Regions from separate parts of the Homo sapiens genome. Here all the other regions are linked to region 1. Evidence: fine-mapped expression QTL. A gene starts in region 1. Each other region holds a variant in brackets. All regions are shown on one strand. Distances are from middle to middle. Region 1 holds the start of PTPN12 (protein tyrosine phosphatase non-receptor type 12). Region 2 overlaps APTR (Alu-mediated CDKN1A/p21 transcriptional regulator). Region 3 overlaps GSAP (gamma-secretase activating protein). Region 4 overlaps PHTF2 (putative homeodomain transcription factor 2). Region 5 has its middle 49 kb from the start of PTPN12. Region 6 has its middle 29 kb from the start of PTPN12. Region 7 overlaps APTR (Alu-mediated CDKN1A/p21 transcriptional regulator).

Evidence for each region. PIP is the estimated chance that this variant, and not a neighbour inherited with it, causes the effect.
Region 2: its variant is fine-mapped to the expression of PTPN12 in lung (TOPMed, PIP above 0.99). The same link has a PIP of 0.9 or more in whole blood.
Region 3: its variant is fine-mapped to the expression of PTPN12 in fibroblasts (GTEx, PIP above 0.99).
Region 4: its variant is fine-mapped to the expression of PTPN12 in whole blood (TOPMed, PIP above 0.99).
Region 5: its variant is fine-mapped to the expression of PTPN12 in whole blood (TOPMed, PIP above 0.99).
Region 6: its variant is fine-mapped to the expression of PTPN12 in spinal cord (GTEx, PIP 0.99).
Region 7: its variant is fine-mapped to the expression of PTPN12 in whole blood (INTERVAL, PIP above 0.99).

Annotation. Positions count from the first base shown.
Region 1 is chr7:77,535,753-77,539,942 of GRCh38, forward strand. It overlaps PTPN12 (protein tyrosine phosphatase non-receptor type 12), which reads left to right and starts at 1,543. Exons shown (of 18, transcript NM_002835.4): 1 at 1,543-1,893. The coding sequence starts at 1,795. It overlaps LOC124901681 (a long non-coding RNA gene), which reads right to left and starts at 1,197. Exons shown (of 3, transcript XR_007060395.1): 1 at 619-1,197; 2 at 1-529. RefSeq lists enhancers at 623-672, 843-1,062 and silencers at 1,133-1,432, 1,683-1,892, 2,033-2,082.
Region 2 is chr7:77,657,549-77,661,738 of GRCh38, forward strand. APTR (Alu-mediated CDKN1A/p21 transcriptional regulator) reads right to left here. Exons shown (of 2, transcript NR_134254.1): 2 at 112-1,770. It overlaps LOC105375363 (a long non-coding RNA gene), which reads left to right. Exons shown (of 3, transcript XR_927695.3): 3 at 1-873. Among named protein-coding and RNA genes, the nearest start is that of APTR, 37 kb to the right of the region's middle. The variant C/T (reference allele first, on the strand shown) is at 2,022.
Region 3 is chr7:77,407,099-77,411,288 of GRCh38, forward strand. The region is part of intron 1 of GSAP (gamma-secretase activating protein); the gene reads right to left. Among named protein-coding and RNA genes, the nearest start is that of GSAP, 7.2 kb to the right of the region's middle. The variant C/T (reference allele first, on the strand shown) is at 2,530.
Region 4 is chr7:77,902,942-77,907,131 of GRCh38, forward strand. All of the region lies in intron 6 of PHTF2 (putative homeodomain transcription factor 2), which reads left to right. Among named protein-coding and RNA genes, the nearest start is that of DDX3ILA1, 85 kb to the right of the region's middle. The variant A/G (reference allele first, on the strand shown) is at 2,386.
Region 5 is chr7:77,485,734-77,489,923 of GRCh38, forward strand. No RefSeq gene overlaps it. Among named protein-coding and RNA genes, the nearest start is that of PTPN12, 49 kb to the right of the region's middle. The variant T/C (reference allele first, on the strand shown) is at 2,474.
Region 6 is chr7:77,506,453-77,510,642 of GRCh38, forward strand. No RefSeq gene overlaps it. Among named protein-coding and RNA genes, the nearest start is that of PTPN12, 29 kb to the right of the region's middle. RefSeq lists an enhancer at 2,234-3,209. The variant G/A (reference allele first, on the strand shown) is at 2,377.
Region 7 is chr7:77,683,633-77,687,822 of GRCh38, forward strand. The region is part of intron 1 of APTR (Alu-mediated CDKN1A/p21 transcriptional regulator); the gene reads right to left. Among named protein-coding and RNA genes, the nearest start is that of APTR, 11 kb to the right of the region's middle. The variant C/A (reference allele first, on the strand shown) is at 2,268.

The DNA of each region.
Region 1 (4,190 bases):
CCAAATTCGCTGACCAATCTGCTCTGTAAAAAAAGGTTTGTGGGTATAAATGACGAAAGTCAGTTCATGGATCAAATCCTTCAGTTCTGTCACATTGTGAGAGGCCACTGTTGTGAAAGTAAAATAACTTCTAGTTACGGCTCTGCTAAGAATACGCTGGGGGATGTCAGGAAGTCGCTTTATTTGTAAAATGATGAGTTAGACCAGAATATATTCTCTGATAGAAGTTTACAAAGATGAATAAAGATTTATAGGCTAGGCGCGGTGGCTCACGCCTAAAATCCCAACACTTTCGGAAGCTGAGGATCCCTAGTGCACAGGAATTCGAGATCAGCCTGGGCAACCTGGTGAGACCCCCTTCTCTACCAAAAATAAATAAATAAATAAATAATAAATTTTTAAAATGTATTAGCTGGGCTTGGTGACGTAGTGAGGCAGGAGGATGCCTTGAGCCCAGGAGTTCAAGGCTGCAGCGAGCCGTGATCATAGCACTGCACTTTGGCATGGGAGATAGAGCAAGACCTTAGCTCTAAAAAAAAAAAAAAAAAAAAATTAATAGATTTATAAAGTCCATTCTATGGAGGAAAGTCTCTTATTCAGTTATGAACTGCTGCGAACCTAAAGGCAGGAAGGCAAATTCCCTTCAGTTCGGCAAACACGAAGACCCCACATTCGCGTCGTCTGTGAAGAAGGCACTCCGAACCTCAGGCGCTCACTCGCCAGGTTTAAGAGGATGAGCAAAGAATAAAAGTCCTCTCACCCAGGAAGCGTTTCGCTTCCCTTAGCTGGAGCCACGCTCCAAGGTGCCAAAGCCTAATTGCTGTCCACTCTCACCAATCCGTTAGCAAGATGAGCATCTACCTGCTGCGAACGTGGCGGTGACACTACTACAGCTCCCAGCCTGCCTCCCGCCCGCCCCCACTCCTGGACTCCACAGACCGTGACTTGTAGTCCCAGCCCACGGCTGGCGGCGGTGCGGGACTCCTGAAAACTGCTTTTCCTCCCTAGTAGGCGGTGAGACCGCAAATTCCATCAGAATCCTACTCTGACCCACTAGGGCTTGGCCCGCTCAGAGTCGCATTCCCTCCTCCAAATGAACCAACTCTCCTCCCAGCGATACTCCGACCTCTGAGCACCCCGGGCGGGGCCACGCCCCGGAAATGGAGTCAGGTCTCCAGGCCGCCCGCTGAAGTGCCTTCCAGCCACTCCAAGCGGGGCTGGGGCCGGCGGGGCGGGCTTGGGGGCGTGGCCGGGAGGCGGGCGGGGATGCATCTGCGGGCGCAGCGCTTGGGGCGGAGCCGCAGCGCGAGGCCGCGCATCTGGGTGGCGGCGGGGACGCGCCCGTGGGGAGAGGCGGCTGCGGCTGCGGCTGCGGCTGCTGGCGGGGGGTGGGGGGGAGGAGGAACCGGGAAGGGGGGGCAGGGCGAGCGGAGAGCTAGCTGTGTTCCTGAGGCGGCGGCGGCGGCGGCGGCGGCGGCGGCGTCTCCGACGGAGGAGGAGGGCGGGGAAGGAGGATGGAGCAAGCTGGGGGTTGGGGTTGGCGCTAGCGCAGCGGCTCGCCTGGTACTGTGGGAGAGCGGCGGCTGCTCCTGGAAGTTGTGGTGTCGGGAGCCCAGCCGGTGCCGCCGCAGCCGCCGCCTAGGGCGGTGGGGAGGAGGAGGGAGCCGCGGGGCTTGGCGGGGTCGGGAGGGAGGGACGTGCTGGGGGAACGAGCTGGGGAAGACGGAGCGGGCTCTGTGCCGGGCGGGCGGGCGGCGGGGGGGCCAGCGACCGCAGCCGGGGGGACGCGGGAGGATGGAGCAAGTGGAGATCCTGAGGAAATTCATCCAGAGGGTCCAGGCCATGAAGAGTCCTGACCACAATGGGGAGGACAACTTCGCCCGGGACTTCATGGTGAGTCTCTCCCCTCGCTGTCGCGTTTTCTTGCCGGCGCCGGAGCCCATCGCCGCCTCTCCCGGCCGGGCCGCCAGTGCTTTGTGTACCTCTGTGAGGAGAGGGGCGGAGGGGGCGCGCACCAGCCGGGTGAGCCGGGTGGTCTCGGAGGCCAGCGGGAGGCGAGAGCGCCTCCCCCCGTGGCCTCCTTTCTTCTCCCATGTTCGCGACCCCCGCGCGGGTTCCCGGGACGCGAAGGGAGCGGCCGCGCGGCCGAGCCCGCAGCCTGCACCGTGGCTCGCGACCACCTATTGTTTACCGGGCCGGGAGCCGTAGGCAAGTGAGGTGCAGGCCGGGGGGGGGGGCTCGCGTTTCCACACCTCCCCGCGCAGTTCGCTCCTCCCAGGAGGGTCGAGGCAAGGTATCTGGCTGTGACCGGGAGGAGTGCAGATCGTGGCTGACAGAGGAACGGGGGTATTGAGGTTGGCACTAACTCCTGGGATCCCTTTGCTCTAGCTGGTCTCAAAGCGGGCAGGGTAGGACTTAGGCCGTTTCTGGGGTCGCAGTCATGATCTCCAACGCTTGGGAAAGGATTGCCCATAAGGAATCTCATGGGTTTACCTAATTTCCATTTACCCGCGTCCCGCTTCTCCTCTCCTGAGGCCCAGGTTTGAGGTGGTCTTGGGGTCCGTGTGACTATAGGTTCAGGGGATAAGTGTGGGTGGGGGAATTATCCTGAAGGAAGCCAGCCGACTTCGGACTCCCCAGGGGATATTGCCGAAGGCGGAGGGGATGTGACTATCACTTCCTATCCGGGGTGGGGGTGGGGAACTTGGGAACAATAGTCCTGGTGGGGCGGAGGCGACGCTACGGGCCGAAGCCCTGAACTGGGAGATAACCTTCCCAGCGCCCCCCCGCCTCCGCCACCCCCTACTTTCCGCCCTCTGCTTGTGCAGGCAGTCTTGAGAGGAGGTGAAGGTTAAAAGTCTTGTTCATGAAATTGCTCTAGATACACTATTGCTTTAGCACACTGTGAGGGGGTCAGATCCGAAGGCGTGAGACCAGAAGTCGACTTCCTACGTTACCCACCCCCCCAACCCCCGCCCTTTTTATTTTTCTGCTGGACAATGTTCCCTCTAGGGTTGTTTCCCGGCTTAGGAGGCGGTGGTTGCGGCTGCTGCTCCTACGGATATTGCGCAAGACTGGGGCGTTGGAAACCCTGTAGGTCTGGGGAATGAAAAAGGAAGTGGGACTTTGGGAAGTGGTTGCTCCTTAGTCTTGGCGGGGGTTGGGAATGGGAAATAAGCTGGGGAAAATTTTTATCTTGGGTAAGGTACACCTCGAAGAATAATCACTTAATTCTGAAATCTGATTATGAGAAGGATACACAGTTAATGCCTGTAAAATGAATGGGCAGCAAACATTGGCTAGTTTTTATTTTTTGTTTAAAAAGTACAGTAGTTTTTATGGTGGAGGTGATATGACTTAGTAGTGAATACTTTTTCACGTTTTAAAGAGACTGGTCTAGTAAAGCTTTAGCGTTAAATTTTTAACAGCTTATAAAATAGGCCCTTGACCATACACAGTATTATACTAGCATCGTTGAGCTTTGTGATTCCCGCCTCCCCAGACCAATAATAGAGGACGGAAGTAAAGTTTTCTCAGTATCTTTTGAAGATTGAAAATATAAGTTAAATAATCTAACTTATTCCTTATTAAAAATAAAAATATTGCTTATATTTAAACATTTGCTCTTGATATTTAGCCTATGTATTTTTGAAAAATTACTTTTTGATCTGAAAGGGTTAAGGAAAACGGCATTTTCCCTTTTTACTATTGAGAGTTTTTATTGTCTTGGTATCTTTTGAATGGTGTCATTTACAGCAATTGGATGGAGTCCCTTTTTTACTACTTTCTAGCAAAAGTAGAAGAAAATACTTTGAATATTTAAGATGTTTAAAACTAGTTTTTTTGGGTTTTGTTGTTTGGTTGGTTGGTTGGTTGGTTTTTTTTTTGAGACGGAGTCTCGCTCTACGCTCTGTCGCCCCGGCTGGAGTGCAGCGGCGCAATCTCAGCTCACTGCAACCTCTGCCTCCCAGATTCAAGCGATGCTCCTGCCTCAGCCTCCTGAGTAGCTGAGATTATAGGCACGTGCCACCACGCCCGGCTAATTTTTGTCCGAAGTAGCCGGGACTACAGGCGCAAGCTACCACGCCCTGCTAATTTTGTATTTTTAGTAGAGATGGGGTTTCGCCATATTTGCAGGCTGCTCTCGAACTCCTCATCTCAAGTGATCCATCTGCTTTGGCCTCCCAAAG
Region 2 (4,190 bases), 120 kb after region 1:
TAAAAATAAAAATTAATCCATGTTTATTAAGACAATTTTTAAGATGATTTTTGAAAGGTAATTTACGTTATCTCAGCAAAATTTTCAATAATGTGAACTACAAGGCATAAATCTTTAGCAAAAAGATTTTTATTCAATATTTTATTATCAAACATTCAAACAGAAAAGTTGAAAGAATTATACAGTGGGCCATATCATATAATATACTCATCATCTAGATTCTACAATTAACAGTTATTTTTATCACATGTCTAATGATCTATGCATCACTCTATTCATCCATTAATTCATTTTTGTTTATATATTTCAAAGTGATTTGCAAACATGAGTACACTTCACACCTGAACACTTTAGCACAGCAAAAGGATTTTTTTCAGGTATAGTATTTGTCCACTGGAGGGCCTCCAAATGCCATAAAATGCATTAAAAGTAAGTTCATCTGTAGTCCCCAAGAACTGGAGAAGGTCCAGGGAAGGAGATGCATGGAGTGTAAATTGCATCAATTAGGGCAAGAGACTCAATCTGAAATCCAGAAAGAAGATTTCAACATTTTTTATCTTTACCCTCAGAATTTCTCTTCCTCTTTTTACAGCTACTTTCATTGTAAAGGAGAAAATATATCACAGGCCTCTCTCCCCAACAAATGATTTGAGCTCTTGAAGGTAGCAATTCTTTAGACCAGAAACTCAGGAAACTTGAAGTCAAGATGTTGTTATATTTGTGGAAATGAGTTGATGACATAAATTAAATGTTTGTTAGTTTGTTGATTGTTAACTCTCCACGAGGACAGGGATTTAGTTATCACTTGTCCCCAGAATGTAGACAGACACTCGTTGGAACATACTAGTGCTCAATAAATATTTACTGAAGAAATGAATGAATCCAAGTGCTTTATTCCAAGTATAATCTTCACACATTTAATGTCATTACTGATGAAAGTTAAGACAATTAGCCTACTTTTTAGTGTAATAGAAATAGAGCTCAACATAGCTATGTAATATAATGTATACCATTAAATTCCAAAAAGGAAAACAATCTAAAATGTAACTCATTTTTCCAAAAACGTGAAGAAATCTCGAGGATTCCACTGGGAAATTACCTTTAAAAAAAAACAAAAACAAAAACAAAAAGGGCTGTGCACAGTGGCTCATGCCTGTAGTCCCAACACTTCGGGGTGCCGGGACAGGAGGATTGCTTGAGCCCAGGAATTCAAGACCAGTTTGGGCAACCCAGGGAGACCCTGTCTCTACGAAAAATAAAAATTGAAAAATTAGCCAGGCTTAGTGGTGCATGCCTGTGGTCTCAGCTACTTGGAAGGCTGAGGTGACAGGATCACCTGAGCCAGGGAGGTCAAGGCTACAAGTGAATGATGATAATGCCACTGCACTCCAGCCTGAGTAACAGAGCAAGACTTTGTCTCAAAAAAACCCCATAAAATATGGATATAGATTGATTATTGTAGATCTGGAGCTGCAACTACAGAAATGACCATTTTTTGCTATGTGCAGCAGAAGAGTCAGCTTAAGCCTTCCCAGCTTCCGGGGCTCAGCTGGCGCTGCTGGGGCAGGTGCTGCAGAGACTTGTGTTGCTGGGTGGAAGTCGCGCTGCCTTCTGGAGAGGGCCACAGAGAAACTTTCCAGAATGGGCTTCCCAGAAGCAAATGTGAAGTTTTGAAATGGGGCTGAACTTCTGTGAATCCATGGGAACAAGAGCCAGTGGAATTTGAATCGTTCATGTTACTCTCCTTTTGTACCCACAGACTGGTGATACCTGAGGAAATTCAAGTACATTGCAATTTTTTAATTAACTTTTTTTTTTTTTTTTTGAGACGGACTCTTGCTCTGTCGCCTGGGCTAGATGGCGCGATCTCAGCTCACTGCAACCTCCGCCTCCTGGGTTCAAGCGATTCTCCTGCCTCAGCCTCCAGAGTAGCTGGGATTACAGGCGCCCCCCACCACGCCCGTCTAATTTTTTGTATTTTTAGTAGAGACGGGGTTTCTCCATGTTGGTCAGGCTGGTCT[C/T]GAGCTCCTGACCGCAGGTGATCCGCCCACCTCAGCCTCCCAAAGTGCTGATATTACAGGTGTGAGACACAGCACCGGGCCTTTTTTTTTTTTTTTTTTTGACAGCGTCTAGCTCTGTCACTCAGACTGGAGTGCAGTGGGACATCATGACTCATTGCAGCCTCTAACTCCTGGCCTCAAGTGATCCTCCCACCTCAGGTTCCCAAGTAGCTGGGACTATAGGTGCACACCACTGTGCCCAGCTAATATTTTTTTATTTATTTTTTTAAGAAATGGGGTCTTGCTTTGTTGCCCAGGCTGTTCTCAAACTCCTAGGCTCATGCAATCCTCCCACCACAGCCTCCCAAATACTGGGATTACAGGCATGAGCCACTGCATGCAGCCTTTAAATTAGCTTTTTTTTTTTTTTTTTTTTTTTTTTGAGATGGAGTCTCGCTCTGTCACCCAGGCTGGAGTGCAGTGGCGCGACCTCGGCTCACTGCAAGCTCTGCCTCCTGGGTTCATGCCATTCTCCTGCCTCAGCCTCCCGAGTAGCTGGGACTACAGGCGCCCGCCACCGTGCCCGGCTAATTTTTTGTATTTTTGGTAGAGACGGGGTTTCACGGTGTTAGCCAGGATGGTCTCGATCTCCTGACCTTGTGATCTGCGTGTCTCGGCCTCCCAAAGTGCTGGGATTACAGGCGTGAGCCACCGCACCCGGCCCAAATTAGCTTTTTAAGGTAATCATTTTCTTTAATACTTCTTTGGCCTAGAAGAGCATCTCCATATTCAGCACAAATTCAGGAAACTAACATATATCTCAAACAGCAGTCAGGGGCTGGGCTCACATCTGTAATCCCAGCACTTTGGGAGGCTGAGGTGGTGGATCACCTGAGGTCAGGACTTTGAGACCAGCCTGGCCAACATGGTGAAACCCTGTCTCTACTGAAAATACAAAAATTAGCTGGGTGTGGTGGCGGGCACCTGTAATCCCATCTACTCCGGAGGCTGAGGCAGGAGAATCACTTGAACCCGGGAGGCATAGGTTGCAGTGAGCCGAGATTGCACCAGTGCACTCCAGCCTGGGCAACAGAGTGAGACTCTGAAAAAAAAAAAAAAAAAAAAAGGGCAGGGAGCAGTGGCTCACATCTATAATCCCAGCACTTTGGGAGGGCAAAGCAGGCAGATCGTGTGAGCTCAGGAGTTCGAAACCAGCCTGGCCAACGTGGTGAAACTCTGTCTCTGCTAAAAATACAAAAATTAGCTGGACGTGGTCGCGCGCACCTATAATCCCAGCTACTTGGAAGGCTGAGGCACGAGAATCACTTGAACCCGGGAGGCAGAGGTTGCAGTGAGCTGATATCGTGCCATTGCACTCCAGCTTGGGAGACAGAGCAAAACTCTGTCTCGAACAACAACAACAACCAAAAAAGAAACAAAAATTAGCCGGGCGTGGTGGCGGGCGCCTATAGTCCCTGCTACTTGGGAGGCTAAGGAAGTAGAATCACTTGAATGAATCTGGGAGGCAGAGGTTACTGTGAGCCGAGATCGCGCCGCTGCACTCCAGCCTGGACGACAGAGAGAGACTTCATCTCAAAAAAAAAAAAAAAAAAAAAAGACCCAGTCTCTACAAAAAATTTAAAAATTACCGGATCATGGTGGTGCCTGTGTGTAGTCCCCTACTCAGGAGGCTGAGATGGGAGGATCACTTGAGCCCAGCAGGTCGAGGCTACAGTGAGCAGTGATGGTGCTACTGTACTCCAGCCTGGGTGACAGAGCAAGATCCTAAAATAAAAAACAAACAAACAAAACAAAACAGCTATTAGGAGAATTTTTAAAAATATTTTTGTCAGCCAGGCGTGGTGGCTCATGCCTATAATCCCAGCACTTTGGGAACCAGAGGTGGGCAGTTCATTTGAGGTCAGGGGTTTGAGACCAGCGTCGTCAACATGGTGAAACCCCGTCTGTACTAAAAATTACCAGAAAATTATCTGGGCTTGGTTGTGGGCACCTATATCCCAGCTACTCGACAGGCTGAGGCAGGAGAATCTCTTGAACCCGCAAGGCGGAGGTTGCAGTGAGCTGAGATCTCGACACTGCACTCCAGTCTGGGCAACAAGCAAAACTCCATTTCAAAAAAAAAGAAAGAACGAAATTTTTTGTCTCTACAGCAGAATGAGACAAAAATTA
Region 3 (4,190 bases), 130 kb before region 1:
AGGGCAGCTTTCTCCCATAAGGCCTGTCAGATAAAGTCTTTGTAACTGCACATAGTTGGGTCTGAAAAATTACACATAAGTTTTTAATATAGGAGCTGGATTAGCAACCCTTTATTCATTATACAATGTCCTTTATTTCTAATAATTATTTTTACTTTAAGGTCTACTTTGTCTGATATTAGTATAACTACATCAGCTTGGTTAGTGCTTGCATAACTTTCTGTTATTAATCTTCCTGTGTCCTTATATTGAAGATATGTTTTATAAGCAGTATCCACTTGAGATTTTTTCCTCCAATCTGACATTCTTAATCTTTTAATTGGGATATGTAGTCCATTTTTACATTCAATGTAATTACTAACATATTGGGTTGATATTTATCATATTACTATTTGTTTTCTACGTGTCTCACCTGTTTTACTACTCTTCTAAGTTTATTATTTCATTCTATTACCTATTGTCAGTTATATGTTTTTGCTATTCTTTTATTAGTTATACTAAAAGTTGTAACAGGCATCCTTGACTTATTATGTTTTAGTATTATGTGATGCAAAAAAAATCTGAAGCAACTGAAACTCTCATACATTGTTAATGGGAGTATAAATTGGAAAACTGGCAATATCTAGTGAAGCTGAACACATGACTCAGCAACTGCACTTGTACATATATCTTCAAAAGAAATATATACATATATTTAGCAAGGGACACATAAGAATGTCTATAGTACTGTGGTACATTATTGCCCAAACCAGAAACCCAAACTATCCATTAAGTGAAGAATGAATAAATTGTGTTATATCCAAACAGTGGAATAGTACAAAACAATGAATTAATATTCTGCAATAACACATGTGAAACTGAGCAAAAGAACCTTCCCCACCACCAAAAGAAGGTACAAATTGTATGTTTCAATTCATACACAAGTTTTCAATAATGGGCACAACTAATGTACAGTGTTAGATAAGTGACTGTTAGAAAGGAGCATGAAGGACTTCTGAGGTTCCATTAATGTTTTCCTTCCTGTTCTGAGTCTTAGTTGCATAAGTGTGTTTCACTTGGTGAAAATTAACTAAGCTGTGAACTTATAACTTGTGTCCTTGTCTATATGAAAGCCCTATTTTGCTGAAGGATATACAGACTCTTTACACAAAACATTTAACCTATAAGTTAACTGACCATCTTTCTTCTAAAATTTTAGGATATTTCTCCTAATTCTACAGTTAAAGGATTTAAACACTGGTAGATTCACCATTGTAATTATCACTAATTGGGCAGAAGTGTGTACTTTCCCAATTTCCTCAAAAGTTATCCAAAATTATGGCCGGCACAGTGGCTCACGCCTGTAATCCCAGCACTTTGGAAGGCTGAGGTAGATGGATCACTTGAGGCCAGGAATTCAAGAGCAGCCTGGTCAACATGGTGAAACCCAATCTCTACTAAAAAATACAGAAAATTAGCTGGGCACGGTGGTGCACACCTGTAATCCCAGCTACTCAGGAGGCTGAGACAGGAGAATCACTTGAACCCAGGAGGTGGAGGTTGCAATGAGCCGGGATTGAGCCATTGCACTTCAGACCAAGACTCTGCCTCCAAAAAAAAAAAAAAAAAAAAAAAAGAAAAGATAAATTGCTTAAATTTGACTCATTTTTCCCATACAGGAATAGTTTTTACATGTTAATTACATTGATTATGACAAATTCTAATATTCAGACAAAACATATGCAAACTATCTGTAACTCAGCAAATTTCTGTCTGTATTCCTAAAAGGAAAAGACAAGATAAAAAATAAGGATAATTGGTGAGCTGGACACCTGCACTGGAGCTGGAGGTGGGAAACATTTAGAGAGAGGAAGACCAGGTTTCACTGAGAACTTAGACATCATCCTGAGATCTCTCTTCCCCACCCCTCACAAGCAGCAGCTTAGTGGGTCTCCTAGGGGCAGGGCAAAGGGATAGGGCAAAGTGTTTTCTATACATGGGTATAAACGTTTGTCAGTATATTGACATGTATATGGAGCTGTCAGACTCACTTCACACTGAAGGATAATAAGGATAATAATTTGGTCTCTTAGGAGACTAGGATTTAAATAATCAGTTCATGGGCCAAGCATGATGACTCACGCCTGTAATCTCAGCACTCTGGGAGGCCAAGGTGGGAGGATGGCTTGAGCTCAGGAGTTCAAGACCAACCTGGGCAACACAGCAAAACCCTGTCTCTTAATAATAATAATAAGCTTATGGCTAAGTAGGCCTTCACAATTTAGAGAGTTCTCATTTCTATCTCATCTGCATTGTATAAGGTATTCCAGGCCTACTATACTTTTCAATGAGATAATGATACTTGACCAATATACAGTGAAAAGGTGGCGTAGACTGAACTCAAACCTAGAAAAAGGTAAACAGAACAATGGACTGAGTGTTCTGTATCAAGCTTACAATGAGAAAATGGGTAATTACTCAAAAGTCCTTTGAAAGGCAGATATTGTAGACATCTAAAGAGAATTTCAGTGAGTTTGTTCATCCTGTACA[C/T]GACTCAAAACTTCTGGAATGCAATGTGTCAATATTTTGAGAAGTATTTTTTTTCTTTCAAGATTATAAGTATGCGAGGAGAGATCGTCGCAAAAGTACAGTTAAAAGGTTTCGGCTAAGATAAGAACTCCTTCACAAGAAATCTTGCTAAATCCAATTTACTTGCAAAAGCGTATCTATTTTCAGATTACTATAATACTAAGAGAAAAAATTCTCCAACAAACGCAGATTACAATAAATGACACATTTTTATCCCATTAAACTAGTGGTTCTCAACTCTGGCTGTCTTAAAATCATTAAGGGAGCTTTTAAAAGAACACTGATGCCCCAAGCCATACCCAGGATATTCTGATTTTATTGAGCTGGTGTGGAGCCCACTCTCTGGTGTACATGTATGTGTTTTAGATTCCCTGGGTGATTCTAATGTACAGCCAGGGTTAAGAACCATTGAACTACAAATGTACATTACATATTAAGCAATATTTGTTAGAGGGCATAACTTGGACCATCTTATAATATAACCATGGTAGACAGAGAGTTGAAAGAAATAAAAATAATGTTTTCATGGGAACATTAGGTAATAACTGCAGGGCTGAATACCCTGCAGTTAAGTACACAGTTCACATTTCAAGGACATGTGAAATAGACAAATTTGGTAATGTTGCAAATCCAGAGACCAATGTCTCACCACATACTATTAAGCCATCGGCTCTTCCTCCCTGGACGAGTTGCCCATGTCTTAACACACCCTTTTAAAAGAAGTATTCAGTAACCTCTTTGCTTATTCATTCTGACTCTTCTCCCAGTAGTTCATCACTGGAAAGTCCAGAGGAAGAAGTTTTGCAATTTCAAATGAGGAAATGTGGCTTAATTTCACAGTTTAGTATATTCAGTTCTCATGAATAAAACAATGTAGCATTTTGATAGATACTTGCATAGGTAAACCTATAAAAGAAACGAGAGTACCTAGATATTAAAGATATTGGCAAGGCATAGCTCTTGTAAAACAAAAGCTGGTTGGCCAGATATTCTCATTCGTTTCAATCTATTCTTTGTCAAACAAAAGTGATTTCACTTTACAGGAATAGGGGTTCTCAAATGTGTACATTTTATCCCAAACTGCTATGAGACAAAAATTAAAGTATTTGTCTTTCCAATGACCATATTTAAGGAGAAAAACGTCATTCAGCCTTATACAAAATTTTGAACTAGTTCCTAATACATACATCAAGAGGTGACAAAATATGATTATACCTATAACATTCCTATTCTGTAAATAATTCATATAAATCCTCAGGCTCAAGATGACCAGTTATTATAATTCCTAAACCTATGCAGTAAACATTATGTGATTTATATTTCATATTCTGAGTAAAATGAAGTTAAGAGAGAGATGAGAATTAGAAGAGGAGACTAGGAAAGAATTAGCGGAAAAAAAAGTAAAAAGGACAGATAGTGGCAAGAAAATAGTAAAAAAAAAAAAAAAAAAAAAGTGAAAACAATGTGATTAAGGTAACCCTCTGGCCCCCAAATCAATCTAGGAATACATAGGAGGCAACCAAAAAAAGTATTATTCTTGAATCAGTCACTTGGTAAAATATACCACTTCCCTGGCAAAGATTACAATATTTGAAAGACAAGTCAATCTGGTGTATCATAAA
Region 4 (4,190 bases), 370 kb after region 1:
CTGATTAAAGATATAATAATATTTTCATGGCAGGAAATTTGGAAAATGTAGAAAAAGCTAAAGAAAAAAAGAACTACCCATCATCTTGCCTTTAAATTTATAATACTTTTTAAATAGTTGAGATTATTTTATATGAACAGCTACATTTTTTTTTACCTAATGTCATAATATCAAAGTCTTTGTAAATATAACTTCTAAGTTACTAGAAAATATCTTGTCCTACTTCAATATTGGGCAGTTAAGCTGATTGCTATTTTTTGCTATTATAATTACTGCTGAAGTGATCATATTTGCTTATCAGTATTTTCTAGTTATAGTGATCATAATTTTTATCATTTTCTTGTTTTCTTCTCAAAAGGACTTAAGAGAGCTTAATTTAAGTATAGTTATCTTCAAAGGTTTTCTGGCTTACCTAGATGAGAAAACTTTATTTGAATGTGGTCAGAAATTGCAATAGTTTATTAGAGTAATTCAGTACCATTGATTGTACATCACAGTGCATTGTGCTTTTTAAGATATTGCTGCTTTCTAGTATTCCACGACAAACAAGTTTCCAATGTAACTAAAAGTTCACTGACATTGTATAATTATATTGTGTCTGAAATTTACTTACTGGTTCCTCTAAGTTAAATAGGGAACACGGGTTAGATTGGGCATTAAATGAGATATTTTTAAGTTCAGAATCCAAGTTTAATCATAAGGCCCTTATGATGAACACTAAACATTCTCCTAGTAAAGCTTAGTTAGAGAAATGACTTAACCTTCTTAAAGTCACACAGCTAGTGCCAAAGTCATGATGTGACTCTGATGACCCTCGGCAGGCTGCCATTACCTTTGAAAACCACTGTATGTCTGTCTCCATTGCAGCACCCTGTGGAAAAGCAGGGTGCTGCAGTGCTCTGAGTTATGTCCTCATTCTTGTTCGCACTTCTTGAAAGGCAGAAAGAATCAAATGCAGTCAGATTTGGTTTTATATAACTATGTATAGTTTTTTTTATTTCAATTACATGCTTTTTAAGTATCTCAGCTATGTATTCTCAGCTCTATCCCCATTTCTGCATGTCTTGGTTGCCTAGTTTCTTGCCAAGATTACTGCCAGGAAACCTCATATCATCTTCTACTTTCTGTCCATTTACCTATTAAATGACAAATTCAAACCAGCTGCTTAAGATCTAAATTTCTTCACTAGTTATCATTGCTTTCAAGATGCAATCTGAGTTTTCAAATCCCTCCTTGAATTTCTATCCCACCTTAACCAGGCTAAACTAGCTCTTTGCTGTTTCTTAAACATTCCATGCTTTTTTGCCTATGTGTCTTTGGACATGCAACTCCCTTTGCGTGGGGTAGCCCTTTTCCCTTTTGTTTAGTCAATCCTCTATGTTCTCTCAAATTTAGATTAGACATCAGACATCACTTTCTTGAAGAATCCTTTCGTAACTCCCCAATGTAGTTACATATCTTTCTTATGTATATTATAGCAGTTAATCATAAGTGTTATATTAGTCACCTTGGGCTACCATAACAAAATACCACAGATTGGGTGGCTTATACAACAAAATTTATTTTTTCACCATTCTGAGGGGTGGAAGTGCAAGAGTGAGGCAATGTCAGAGTTGGTGTCTGATGAGGCTTCTCTGACTTGTAGATGTCCACCTTCTTGCTGTGTCTTCACAGGGCCTTTCTTGTGTGTGTGAGTGGAGAGAGAGAGTACTCTGGTATCTCTGCCTCTTCATATAAAGACAAGAGTCGTATCAGTTTAAGGCCTTACACTTACGAATCTGTTTAACCTTTACTACCTCCTTATAGGCCCTGTCTCCAAACGTAGTCACATTGTGGGTTAGGGCTTCATTCAGCATATGCATTTGTGTGGGGAGGATGAAAGGAGCACAGTTTAGTTCATAACAGGTATTTTCATTGTTTCTTTATATGTCTCTTCTTTCCTGTAAACCAAGCTTGTCCAACCCATGGCCCATAGGCCACATGCAGCCCAGGATGGCTTTGAATGTGGCCCAACCCAGGTTCATAAACTTTCTTAAAACCTTATGAGATTTTTTTTAATTTTTTTAAAGCTTATCAGCTATCGTTAGTGTTAGTGTATTTTATGTGTGGCCCCAGACATTTCTTCTTGCAGTGAGGCCCAGGGAAGCCAAAAGATTGGATACCCCTGGTCTAAACCAAGGGATAGGGAGCGGAGACTGTGTCTTGTCTTTTTTTCTGCATTGCCTAATTGCCACTGAATCTTAAAGATTAACAGTCCTAAAAATGGAAGATAATATTCCATTCTATTCTATTCTGTTTTTTAGACATAGGGTTTTGCTTTGTTGCTCAGGCTGGAGTGCAGTGGTGCGATCATAGTTCACTGCAGCCTTGAACTCCCGGGCACAA[A/G]CAATCCTCCAGCCTCAGCCTCCCAACTAGCTAGGACTATAGGAGCACGCCACCATGCCCAGCTAATTATTTTTATTTTTATTTTTGTAGAGATGGGGTCTTAATATGTTGCCCAGGCTGGTCTTGAACTCTTGACCTCAAGTAATCCTCCCACTTCACCCTCTTAAAGTGCTGGGATTACAGTTGTCAGCCACCACAGTTTCTCTCTGTTGCTCAGGCTGGAGTGCGGTGGTGCAGTCATGGCTCGCTGCAGCCTCAACCTCCAAGGCTCAATCATTCCTCCTACCTCTACCTCCATAGCTGGAACTACAGGCATGCACTGCCATTCCCAGCTAATTTTTGAAATTTTTTTGTAGAGGCAGGGTTTCGCCTTGTTGCCCAGGCTGGTGTCAAACTCCTGGGCTAAAGCAGTCCACCCGCCTCAGCCTGTCAGAGTGCTGGGATTACAGGTGTGAGCCATTGCATCCAGCCTACTCCTAGAGTTCCCCTTGCCCAGTACGTGAAGTCCTGCCTTTGAAATATTTGTGCCCAACAACATTCTGTCTTAGTTGATCTCCAGCAGAAATCTCTAGCAGCACTGTCTAGTTCGTAGGACTTCATTAAATGCTCAAAAAGTATAACTCAGCATTATATAAAATAAGTGAATGTTTTCTCTATATATCTTCTTTTTTTTTGAGACGGAGTCTCGCTCTGTTGCCCAGGCTGGAGTGCATGATCTCAGCATGATCTCGGTTCACTGCAACCTCCACCTCCCAGGTTCAAGCAGTTCTTCTGCCTCAGCCTCCCGAGTAGCTGGGACTACAGGCGTGTGCCACTAAGCCCAGCTAATTTTTGTATTTTTAGCAGAGATGGGGTTTCTCCATATTGGCCAGGCTGGTCTCAAACTCCTGACCTCGTGTTCTGCCGGCCTCAGCCTTCCAAAGTGCTGAGATTACAGGCAGGAGCTACCACGCCCGGCTCTCCATATATCTTCTAAACCTTAACTTGAGAGGAAAACAAAAAGGGGAAGTGATACCAGAGTTACGGAGGAAAAGCTACTGTCTCAGGAACTGAGACCATGGGAGGGACATGATCACTTTTAGAAAGATACAGTCAGAAGAAAGAAGGAAAAAGAGAGGAAGAAAGTGGCTCCTCCTCCTTTTTCTAATGCCTTGTCGTCAGAATTTCACAGTATGTAATAACTTCCTGTTAAGATATACAGAAAATATAATTTGTATGCTCCCAGCCCTAGGATTACAGAGAATGGTGATCACAGGGCTGAAAGAGTTCAGATAAATAACCAGCAACAGGTTATATAAAACCTAAAGTTTTAAAAGATGTTCTCCTTTGTGTCTGAAACTCTGAACTTCTTAAGTAAGCATTTGTACTTGCCCCTTTTAAAATTAGAGTTAATGGCACGGTGAAACCCCATCTCTACTAAAAATACAAAAAATTAGCCAAGCGTGGTGGCGGGCACCTGTAGTCCCAGCCACTCGGGAGCCTGAGGCAGGAGAATGGCGTGAACCTGGGAGGCGGAGCTTGCAGTGAGCCGAGATCGCACCACTGCACTCCAGCCTGGGCAGCAGAGCGAGACTCCGTCTCAAGAAAAATTAAGAGTTAATGGTAGCTAAAAAAAAAAAAAAAAAAGCTACTATTCACCAATGTTAAGTATACATTTACGGTGTATAAGCAGCTTTTCAAAATGTTTTACATGCACTACCTCACCTAAAACCTATTATAGTGCCTATGTACTGTATGTATGCTGTGTACTATGTAGATACACAGAAGATTAAACCAAGGCTCAAAAACATTAAAGAACTTGATAA
Region 5 (4,190 bases), 50 kb before region 1:
TCTCCACACTTAATAGCTAATAGTAGTTGTTTTGCTGGGGAATGTGAGGAAGAGGGCTACAATAAATTGGGAGTACTAAAATCTCCAGGAGTGGCCAGACTGAGCTGGGCATCAGAGGGGGATTACTGTCACTTAAAGGGCATGGTGGGCACATTACAATTTGTCCTGGTACTTCACATGGCAGTAGCCAATCCCTTGAGAGTTTGGTAAGGTTCCCTAGTAACTGAATTTTGTCTAGCTTGTCCCAGTGGCACAGCAAGCACAGCCAGGAGAAATGTGGTGGATTGTATATGGTAAACGCAAAGATGAACTTCCTGATTATAAGGATGAGAAACACTGGAACCAGCTCCTTAGAGAGAGGGAGTTTGTAGAATCTGTATCCTGGAAGAAGTGGCTCTCTCACAGGAAAAAGTTCTTTGATAGAAGGTAGCTTTGTGGAGTGTGTACACTTAACTGGACATGACTGAAGATAGTAGGGGAGGATGAGCTTTGCTTTGAATGAGAAGCAAAGGAGTTGCCCTTTTTTTTTTTTTTTTTTTTTTGAGACAGAGTTTTGCTCTTGTTGCCCAGGCTGGAGTGCAATGGTGCGACCTAGGCTCACCGCAACTTCCGCCTCCTGGGTTCAAGTGATTCTCCTGTCTCAGCCTCCTGAGTAGCTGGGATTACAGGCGCCCGCCACCATGCCCAGCTAATTTTGTATTTTTAGTAGAGACGGTTTCTCCATGTTGGTCAGGCTGGTCTCGAACTCCCGACCTCAGGTGATCTGCCCACCTCGGCCTCTCAAAGTGTTGGGATTACAGGCGTGAGCCACCGTGCCAGGCCAGGAGTTGTTAAAAATGAAATACCATGAGTAAAGTATTCATTTCTGTCCAAAGCAAAAAAAGACCCTATCACATTACAAATGATTTTTATTCTGCAAGAGATCTAGTAAACAGACCATCTAGAGAACCTTACAGTTCAGGCTTACAGATCTACTCATATTTCCTTTTAATGGGCAATTTCTTGTAATTGTTTTTGATAACAAAAGTACTTCCAACTGGAAACTGGTAAAGAACAGGCTAATTTGGGGGAACTGCATACTCCTAAAATACACCTTTATGATTTCTCTAAACTCCCATGTTGCCCTCAACAGTTTATAAGCATATGACAGGAAAATAGGGGAACTATGAGGAATGTGGGTGGGGAGCCCAGTATAGCACAAACACCTGGATCTTGTTCACTTCATTCACTGATCATTAGCCCACTGCCAGCAACATCCTTCTGTCCAGATATTATCACAGCATCCTCTTCTTTACTTACTAAAATGTGAATACCTACAACACACTCAACAAAGAATTCAATTGAACTAATACTTTCACATCTTATCCTCATTTGAAAGCACATTAATATTATTGTACTTCAGTTTCTACATATGTAAAATTGGTGTGCTGGAGGAGTTTGAACAAACTAGATGATCTATGAAGTCTCTTTCAATTCTAAGATTATAAGTTTCCTTTTTTTTATTATTTTTCAGACGGACTCTCACTCTGTCACCCAGGCTGGAGTGCAGTAGCACAATCTCGGCTCACTGCAACCTATGCCTCGCGGGTTCAAGCAGTTCTCTACCACAGCCTCCCGAATAGCTGGGATTACAAGTGCCCACCACCACGCGCGGCTAATTTTTGTGTTTTTAGTAGAGACGGGGTTTCACCATCTTGGCCAGGCTGGTCTTGAACTCCTGACCTTGTGATCCACCCGCCTCGGCCTCCCAAAGTGCTGGGATTACAGGCGTGAGCCACCGCGCCTGGCCAAGATTATAAGTTTCTGTAGTCTTTCCAGGCTGACAGTGCTGCTTTTGGACTATGGAGTTAGAACTGGCTCTGCCACTTTCTTAGTGAGCGACTTTGGGGAGGTTGCCTAATCCCCTTTGGAAACAGTTTCCTCATGTCATTGCTATCATTATCACGCCCACTTGGTGCACTTTGTTGGCCAAGTTACTTAACTTGAGATGCTGTGGATGGGATTAAGAATGCACAAAGGTTGGCCGGGCGCGGTAGCTCATACCTGTAATCCCAGCACTTTGGGAGGCCGAGACGGGCAGATCACGAGGTCAGGAGATCGAGACCATCCTGGCTAACACGATGAAACCCCGTTTCTACTAAAAATACAAAAAATTAGCTGGGCGTTGTGGCGGGTGCCTGTAGTCCCAGCTACTCCGGAGGCTGAGGCAGGAGAATGGCGTGAACCCGGGAGGCAGAGCTTGCAGTGAGCCGAGATTGCGCCACTGCACTTCAGCCTGGGCAACAGAGCAAGACTCCGTCTCAAAACACACACACACACACACACACACACACACACACACACACACACACACACACACACAAAGGTTGAGCATCCCTAATTTGAAATCCAAAATTCTCCAAAGTCTGATACACCTGACCCCAAGTGATGGATCACAGTAAAAATGCAGGCATACAACACAGAGTTTATTCAA[T/C]GTCTCCAAGGGAAAAAAGACCCTTCCACCCCAGTTCAGCTGCAATATATATTTTCTGTGCATGACCAAATTCCTCCATGAAAGCACACCCATAAAACGTAATAAAATAGCACATGTGCAGACTGGATGTGCCAACAGCCGGTTCCCCAAAATGCCCTACATGTAGTAAAGACCTACATGCATTGCTCCTTGTGTTTTCTTGTTTATTTTCTACCCTGTGGTGTAAAGATGTTGCTGAAAAAATGTTCAAAAGGCCTGCAGATACCAACAAAAGAGGAAGCATTTATGTTTATAGGATAGCACAGAAAGTCAAGCTGTTGGAGAAACTGGACAGTGGTGCGAATGTGAAACATCTTAATAGAAGAGTATGGTGTCAGAATGACCACCATATATGACCTGAAACAATAGAAGGATAAACAGTTGGAGTTCTATGCTAAAAATAATGAATAAAAATTAGTAAAAACAGAAAAACACTGCATAAAACTAAAAATAATGGTCTTGATCATGTATTGAAAAATTGGATCGGTCAGCGATGCAGTGAACACTTGCCACTTAATGTCATGCTGATAATGAAATGAGCAAAGACTTATGATGAACTGGAAATTGAAGGGAACTGTGAATATTCAATATATCTGGCTGCATACATTTAAGACACAACATTATTTTTTTTACAATTTGAGGTGATAAAGCATCTGCTGATCATAAAGCAGCAATGATTGATGAGCGTGCCCAAGTTATCACTGATGAAAATCTGACACCAGAACAAGTCTATAATGCTTATAAAACATCACTGTTTTGTGTTACTGCCCCAGGAAGACACTGACTACAGCTGATGAGAAAGCCCCTATAGGAATTAAGGATGCCAAGGACAGAATAACTGTACTGGGATATGCTAATGCAGCACACAAACACATTGTAAACTTGCTGTGACAGGCAAAAGCTTATGTCTTCACTATTTTAAGGGAGTGGATTTCTTACCAGACTATTATTATGCTAACAAAAGTGCACAGATCACCAGGGACATATTTTCTGATTGGTGCTCCAATGTTTTGTACCAGAAGTTCATGCTCACTGCAGGGAAGCTAAACTGGAGGATGACTGCAAGATTTTGTTACACGTGACAACTGTTCTATTCACCCTCCTGCTGAAATTCTCATCAAAAATGTTTATGCCATCTACTTTCCCCAAAATGTGACTTTATTAATTCAACCATGTGGCCAGGGTATCCTTAGATCAATGAAGAGTAAATATAAAAACACTTTCCTGAACAGCATGCTAGCAGCAGTGACAAGAGGTGTGGGTGTGGAAGGTTTGCAAAAAGAGTTTAGCATGAAAGATGCCATACATGCTGTTGCCAATGCTTGGAAGACAATGACTAAAGATACAGTTTTGCATGCCTGCAACCTCTAACCTGTGACTATGTGCAGTGATGATGATGATGAACTAAGTAGTGACTTTGAAGGATTTCATATGTCAAGTGAGGAAAACATGAATGTCTGACCTTATATATGCAAAATAATAATATATATGCATCAGTAAGCTGGAAGAAGTAGATATCAAAGAAGCTTTTAACATTGATAATGAGCCTCCAGTTGTTCATTCATTGACCAATGGTGAAATAGCTGAAATTGTTCTGGATCAAGATGATCACAATAATAGTGACGATGAAGATGATGTCATTAACACCAAAGAAAAGGTGCCTATAGAAGACATGGGT
Region 6 (4,190 bases), 29 kb before region 1:
GCATATATTTAATAGGACAACACCAAGTTTTACTGTGACTGCTCGGGCAGCTCTTAGATGTCAGGTGCTGTTTTTCTCATTCATTTTTTGAGACAGCATCTCCCTCTGTCACCCAGGCTGGAGTGCAGTGGCACACTCACAGCTCACTGCAGCCTCGACCTCCTGGGCTCAAGTGATCCTCATACTTCAGCCTCCCTAGTAGCTGGGACTACAGGTGTGTGCCACTACACCCGGCTAATTTTTATATTTTTTGTAGAGACAAGGTTTCACTATGTTACCCAGGCTGGCCTTGAACTTCTGGGTTCAAGTGATCCAGTCACCTTGGCTTCCCAAAGTGCTGGGATAAGCATGGTGAGCCACTGTACCTGGCCATGCTTTTCTCTTTCTTATAGGTAAGCAAAGTATGGCAGTTCATGGAAACCGTCTTTATAAGAGAGCTGATGGGTCCTTTGCCCCCGATTATTCTTTTCTTCCTTCAGACAGACTGGAATATGGTTGTGATGGCTGGAGTAGCCCAGCTGAAACAAGAGGTGACCTTGGGAATGGAAGCTACAAGAGTACCAGGCCACCTCAGCTCTAGACTAAGCCATTGTTTTTTGTTTTTTTTTTTTTTTTTTTTTTTACTCACAGCTGAAGCTATTCCTGACTGATACAGGAATCTAGTGGTAAGTTCTTTTTTCAGTGGGTTTAAGGTTGGTTTCATATCTTTAAGCTGGACAGATTGTCAGATAAATGACTTAAGAGTCAGAACTAATTACCTTTGTACAAATGGAAGGACATCATGAATCTGTATCATTGTAAGTAAAATACTATGACTTGATGATGACTATTTGCTGAGATACTGTGACTTTTCTAATATATGATGATAATAACAGTAATGACACTTATATTCTCCACGGCTGTTGAGATTAACACTTTTGGCCATAGTACATTGATTTAGGTTTTAAAACATGACACTAGAAAGACTAAAATAATTAATTTAATTAATAAGTTTAAACATGAGAAAAAACAAACTAGTTAAATTTACTCAATTTGGTCAAAATGTCTGTTTTCAATATGCTATATCCCTTGATAGTTTTCTGTTACCTGAAGATATTTTCAAGTTGTCTTTTTATTTTTTTAATTACAGACATACATAGTTGTTTTATAGTCTGTGGATCTGTTTCTAATATCTGCTGTTTCCTTTGAATCTTGCTTACAGGGCCAGACTTCCTTATGTACCTCAATATCTTTGTGCATTGCTCATTGTAATTGAAAATTTGTTTTATTTTTATTTGGGGGGGGGGGCGGGGTTAGGCTCCATTCTACAAAACAGAATGAAAAGGCCAAGATGGGCGAATTACCTAAGGTCAGAAGTTTGAGACTAGCCTGGCCAACATGGTGAAACCCCGTCTCTACAAAAGATCGAAAACTCAGCCAGGCATGGTGGCAGGTGCCTGTAATCCCAGCTACTCGTGAGGCTGAGGCAGGAGAATCACTTGAACCCAGGAGGCAGAGGTTGCAGTGAGCAGAGATCACACCACTGCACTCCAGCCTGGGTGACAAGAGCAAGACTCCATCTCAAACAAAAAAACAAAATATCAACCCTGGCCAGGCACAGTGGCTCACGCCTGTAATCCCAGCACTTTGGGAGGCTGAGGCAGGCGGATCACGAGGTCAGGAGATCAAGACCATCCTGGCTAACATTGGTGAAACCCCGTCTCTACTAAAAATACAAAAAATTAGCCAGGCGTGGTGGCGGGCACCTGTAGTCCCAGCTACTCAGGAGGCTGAGGCAGGAGAATGGCGTGAGCCTGGGAGGCGGAGCTTGCAATGAGCTGAGATCACGCCACTGCACTCCAGCCTGGGCGACAGAGTGAGACTCCGTCTCAAAACAAAAACAAAAACAAAACAAAAAAACAACCCCATTAAAAAATGGTCGAGTTTCCATGGTGAGATGGTCAACAAGCCTGTAAGTTCCTCAGCTACGACTACCAGGTACCTCGGGTTCCTCCCTCCTCCGAGAGACCGCCGAGGTGCGGGCTGTGAGAGAGGGAGCGTGGAGCCTCCGAGGCCGAGGACTCGGTCCCAGTTTGGACAGATAGAAGATCCTGCCGAGTGCCTGTGATTGCAGGCACGCGCCGCCACGCCTGACTGGTTTTGGTGGAGACGGGGTTTCGCTGTGTTGGCCGGGCCGGTCTCCAGCCCCTAACCGCGAGTGATCCGCCCGCCTTGGCCTCCCGAGGTGCCGGGATTGCAGAGGGAGTCTCGTTCACTCAGTGCTCAATGGTGCCCAGGCTGGAGTGCAGTGGCGTGGTCTCGGCTCACTACAACCTACACCTCCCAGCCGCCTGCCTTGGCCTCCCAGAGTGCCGAGATTGCAGCCTCTGCCCGGCC[G/A]CCACCCCGTCTGGGAAGTGAGGAGTGTCTCTGCCTGGCCGCCCATCGTCTGGGATGTGAGGAGCCCCTCTGCCTGGCTGCCCAGTCTGGAAAGTGAGGAGCGTCTCCGCCCGGCCGCCATCCCATCTAGGAAGTGAGGAGCGCCTCTTCCCAGCCGCCATCACATCTAGGAAGTGAGGAGCGTCTCTGCCCGGCCGCCCATCGTCTGAGATGTGGGGAGCGCCTCTGCCCCGCCGCCCCATCTGGGATGTGAGGAGCGCCTCTGCCCGGCCGAGACCCCGTCTGGGAGGTGAGGAGCGTCTCTGCCCGGCCGCCCCGTCTGAGAAGTGAGGAGACCCTCTGCCTGGCAACCACCCCGTCTGAAAAGTGAGGAGCCCCTCTGCCCGGCAGCCGCCCCGTCTGGGAGGTGAGGAGCCTCTCCGCCCGGCAGCCACCCTGTCCGGGAGGGAGGTGGGGGGGGTCAGCCCCCCGCCCGGCCAGCTGCCCCATCCGGGAGGGAGGTGGGGGGTCAGCCCCCGCCCGGCCAGCCGTGCCATCCGGGAGGGAGGTGGGGGGGTCAGCCCCCCGCCTGGCCAGCCGTGCCGTCCGGGAGGGAGGTGGGGGGGTCAGCCCCCTGCCCGGCCAGCCGCCCCGTCCGGGAGGTGAGGGGCGCCTCTGCCCGCCCACCCCTACTGGGAAGTGAGGAGCCCCTCAGCCCGGCCAGCCACCCCGTCCAGGAGGGAGATGGGGGGTCAGCCCCCCCACCCGGCCAGCCGCCCCGTCCGGGAGGGAGGTGGGGGGGTCAGCCCCCCGCCTGGCCAGCCGCCCCGTCTGGGAGGGAGGTGGGGGGGTCAGCCCTCCGCCTGGCCAGCCGCCCCGTCTGGGAGGTGAGGGGCGCCTCTGCCCGGCCGCCCCTACTGGGAAGTGAGGAGCCCCTCTGCCCGGCCAGCCGCCCCGTCTGGGAGGGAGGTGGGGGGGTCAGCCCCCCCCCCGGCCAGCCGCCCTGTCCGGGAGGGAGGTGGGGGGGTCAGCCCTCCGCCCAGCCAGCCGCCCCGTCTGGGAGGTGAGGGGCGCCTCTGCCCGGCCGCCCCTACTGGGAAGTGAGGAGCCCCTCTGCCCGGCCAGCCGCCCCGTCCGGGAGGGAGGTGGGGGGGTCAGCCCTCTGCCCGGCCGGCCGCCCCGTCCGGGAGGCGAGGGGCGCCTCTGCCCGGCCGCCCCTACTGGGAAGTGAGGAGCCCCTCTGCCCGGCCACCACCCCGTCTGGGAGGTGTGCCCAACAGCTCATTGAGAACGGGCCAGGATGACAATGGCGGCTTTGTGGAATAGAAAGGCGGGAAAGGTGGGGAAAAGATTGAGAAATCGGATGGTTGCCGTGTCTGTGTAGAAAGAAGTAGACATGGGAGACTTTTCATTTTGTTCTGCACTAAGAAAAATTCTTCTGCCTTGGGATCCTGTTGATCTGTGACCTTACCCCCAACCCTGTGCTCTCTGAAACATGTGCTGTGTCCACTCAGGGTTAAATGGATTAAGGGCGGTGCAAGATGTGCTTTGTTAAACAGATGCTTGAAGGCAGCATGCTCGTTAAGAGTCATCACCAATCCCTGATCTCAAGTAATCAGGGACACAAACACTGCGGAAGGCCGCAGGGTCCTCTGCCTAGGAAAACCAGAGACCTTTGTTCACTTGTTTATCTGCTGACCTTCCCTCCACTACTGTCCCATGACCCTGCCAAATCCCCCTCTGTGAGAAACACCCAAGAATTATCAATAAAAAAATAAATTAAAAAAAAAAATGGTCAAAGGACATGAACAGAGACTTCTCAAAAGAATATACAC
Region 7 (4,190 bases), 150 kb after region 1:
CTGACTTCAGGTGATCCACCCACCTTGGCCTCCCCAGAGTGCTGCGATTACAGGTGTGAGCCACCATGCCTGGCCTCCTATTGCTTCTTAACTTGACCTCATTAACTATTGCATCTGCAATGATAGTATTTCCAAATAAGGTCACAGTTTGAGATAATGAGGGTTAGAACTTAAACATGAATTTTTGAGGTACACAATTTAACCTGTAATACACCATATTATGTCTATATTTATTTATTTATAAATTATTTGGATCCAGTACTATAATAACAATTACACACATTGTAACTCCTACACAATTTGAAATTTTCAAGTTAAGACAAAGGTAACTATATATAGAAGCAGTATGTTTTCTGAACCCTTACAGATTGTTTTGCACACTCCTGGATTACACACATCTCATCAATCTCAAGAATAAAATCAAAGTCTTTGGCTTGACAGCCTTCCACAATCTGACCTCTGTTTTCTCGCCAGCCTCATCTCCTGTCATTCACAACATTTCCAGCATTCCAACCAGTCTGAACTTTTGCAGTTTCCCACGTGCGCTAGGCTCTTTCTTCATCAGCATCTCTATGCATGCTGTCTCCTGCTACTGGAATGCCCTCATTCTCGTTGCTTCCTGTGAACACGTGGTAAACTCCAATCATCTTCTGAAACTCGGCTCAAACGTCATCTCCCCTGGGGAGCCTTCACTGACTGCCCTGGGCAGCATGAAGCATTTTGTCAGTGCCCCGTAGCACCGTGGTCATATCTTTATTATTGCAAATTTCTGTTTCCACATATAATGTCAGGTGGAACCGATAGCTGGCTTACAAAAACAATGCAATTTCAGGTGGTTCTACTTAACATTCCCTAGACAACAAGTTCACTGAGAGCAGGGACTGTGTTTTATTTATTTTATATTTCCAGTCCCTAAAATGGAGTTTGGCATAAAGTAAATGCTTAATACAGGCTTTCTGAAATTAAGGAAAAGCTTACTCTAGCACTACAGTCTACTTGCAGATTTTCCTTTTTGAGAACGGGGTAGTAAATTGATGTCTTCTATAACAATAACTATTAACTATTACTTAAATTTTCTTTGACTTTATTTAGCTTAACATTATTTTAAACAATTCCTTCCCCTCTTTGTTTGCTTCTGTATATGTGATAAAATATCTTCAAAAAATATACTCTTTTTGTTTGTTTGTTTTTAATTGGTGACTGGGGTTTCACTATGTTGCCCAGGTTGGGCTCAAGCAATTCTCTTGCTTCAGCTTACTGGGCAGTTGGGAATATAAGCATTTGCCACTGTGCCTGGCCTTATTTTTTAAAAATACAGAAAAATCAGGAAGAAGGTACCTAAGTACTGTTTTGTAACCAATACCAAAGTATTTCACAATTTTACTGTCTTACTTTCAAAATATTTTAATCCTTCCAATGAGAATTACACGTAATCATAAGTAGGAATATAAATAGGAAAGCTAAAGAGATTAGTTGAGTAAAATGAATATGACATTTAAAATTCTAACAATTATTTAGTAACAGCAAAGGTAAATCTAATTCCCAAATTTCAAGTGTCCCTAATATTACCTGTTTTGAAGAAAAGCTGTGATACCGGCAACAGTGTTTAAGTATCACACGGGTAGTTAAAAGGCAAGTTGGTCCTATCTGACATGTGGAAATGGCCAGCTCGTTAGAAGGCAGTACCTGGTGAAGCCTGTGAGGAATGAGCAGGAAGTCAAAATGGTTACGTAAACATTTTTCACTCTTCCTCATTAAAGCCCTTAAGTTAACAAAAGGTATTTACTGACTCCTCAGCATGCCAAGGCAGTCAAGAGCAACACTTTACACAATCTGGCTCTCACCCATTTTAGAGAGCCCTCTCCTTTTACGGCACTTCGTGTCCCTTATCCTTGAACCACAATGAACTTCTCATAAACAATACCACATTGAGTGTGTCATTACTCTCATCTCTTTCCAAATGCTTGTTCCTCAGCCTAGAAAGTCTTTCCCCATGTTCTTTGCTTACTAATCTCATTATATTATTAATTACATTGTCACACAGTGCTGGGCCCATTGTAGACACTTAATACTGTTTGACTGTCATCAGTAATAAATAGGATCACAGTCTTGAACAACAGAGCAACACAGTCTTTTTTTTTATTATACTTTAAGTTTTAGGGTACATGTGCAAAATGTGCAGGTTTGTTACATATGTATACATGTGCCATCTTGGTGTGCTGCACCCATTAACTTGTCATTTAGCATTAGGTATATCTCCCAATGCT[C/A]TCCCTCCCACCTCACCCCAACAACATAGTCTTAAACAACAGATTATTTGGAAACAGATCTTGTGATTAAAGTTAACTCCATGAGGACAGAGACCATGTCTGCCATATCTCTTGCTATATTCTAGCACTTAGCCTAGTGCCTGGCAACAGGTAGGTGTTAAGTATTTACTGACTAAACACTTAATATACGTGAAAAATAAGAAAAAGTAGACTTATTGGGTTAGCTTTAAAAGTTAAATAAAAGAGTGGTTAGGCCCGGCGCGGTGGCTCATTCCTGTAATCCCAGCACTTTGGGAGGCCGAGGCGGGTGGATCACGAGGTCAGGAGATCGAGACCATCCTGGCTAACACGGTGAAACCCCGTCTCTGCTAAAAATACGAAAAAAATTAGCCGAGCGCGGCAGCGGGTGCCTGTAGTCCCAGCTACTGGGGAGGCTGAGGCAGGAGAATGGCGTGAACCCGGGAGGCGGAGCTTGCAGTGAGCCGAGATCCCGCCACTGCACTCCAGCCTGGGCGACAGAGCGAGACTCCGTCTCAAAAAAAAAAAAAAAAAAAAAAAAAAAAAAAGAGAGAGAGGTTATTTCCTTGATGGGTCTTTAGCTGTTTTAATTATTCATCTATTTTCAAACTAATGGTATAGAAGTAGTTATTAATTTGAGGGGAATCAAGAAGAGCCAGCACTTGAATCTGAGGCAAAATATGTATTAGGATAGCATCATATTGTTACCTCAAGGCACATAAATCATACAGACAAGCTTTTCAAAGCAGAATCTGCAAAATTAAAATTATGAAATAACTTTGTGACAGTCATAGTTTTGTACTTTGTTGGCTCTACTGGCATGTGCAGTATTTGTACAAAACTGCACTCTTCTAACTGTGGGTTATCAGTTATCAGGAACCCGATCCTGTAAAAACTAATCTACTCCTGGATAATGGCATTAATCCTTTCATGAGGGCGGAGCCCTCATAACCTAATCACCTCTTAAAGGTCCCACCTCTGAACACTGTTGCATTAGAGATTAAGTTTCTAACCCATGAACTCTGGGGGACACACAACTTTCGGGGACACATTCAAACCTGTTCTTTTCTATGAGATAAAAGCACTGGAATCTACCAGCACTCTAAGAAACACTGCATCTTTTTTGAATGCCTATTTTCTAAACATAAAACTTAAATTAACTTAAACTTCTAAAGAGCCCTGACCAATGTCTGGATTTAACATTTTGATGCTTTAGACTTCTGCTTCCTCTTGCAAAATAGGATATATTAGAAAGAAAACTGGTGTAGAGTCAGAATAAACATGAAATTCCAGCTCAGTTTTGAAAAATGCCTTGGAAAGCTTTGTAGAACTGGGATGATGCATAACACCCACAAACATAAGAGATACACAAGGCACTCAGTAAACACTATCCTCTTAACCACAAGTGGTCTGACAGTGTGGCTCAAACTATGAAGCCAAGAATGGTTATTCTGGAGGTTATTCACTGTTCAAAAAGAAAGTAAAGGATAGTAAAGAAAATTAACAAATTACGTACAGGGCTGCATTTGCAATTCAGACATTCTATGAGTCTATCATTTTTCCTTACATTTCTTTGCCAGACCTAGGCTTCAAGGTGTGGATAAATACACTTTACTCTCTACCTACCAGTTCTTACCTAAAATAGCTTCCTCTTCCTGGAGAATTGACTGGAACCACAAACCTTTTTTTTTTTTTTAAACAACCACAAAACTTAAGCTTTTCTTTTCAGAGATTTATATTATTGAATAAGGCTCCTGATACACATTTTATAGGCCTCCTATCCCTTTCTTAAAATAAGTATCAAAATGAGCTGATGTTCTTCCATATGAAAATTCTGGCAGCATAATTAACCCCAGGAGAGACATTTATGGATAGTTTCTATTTACTCTATTTGGCCCCTTTTAC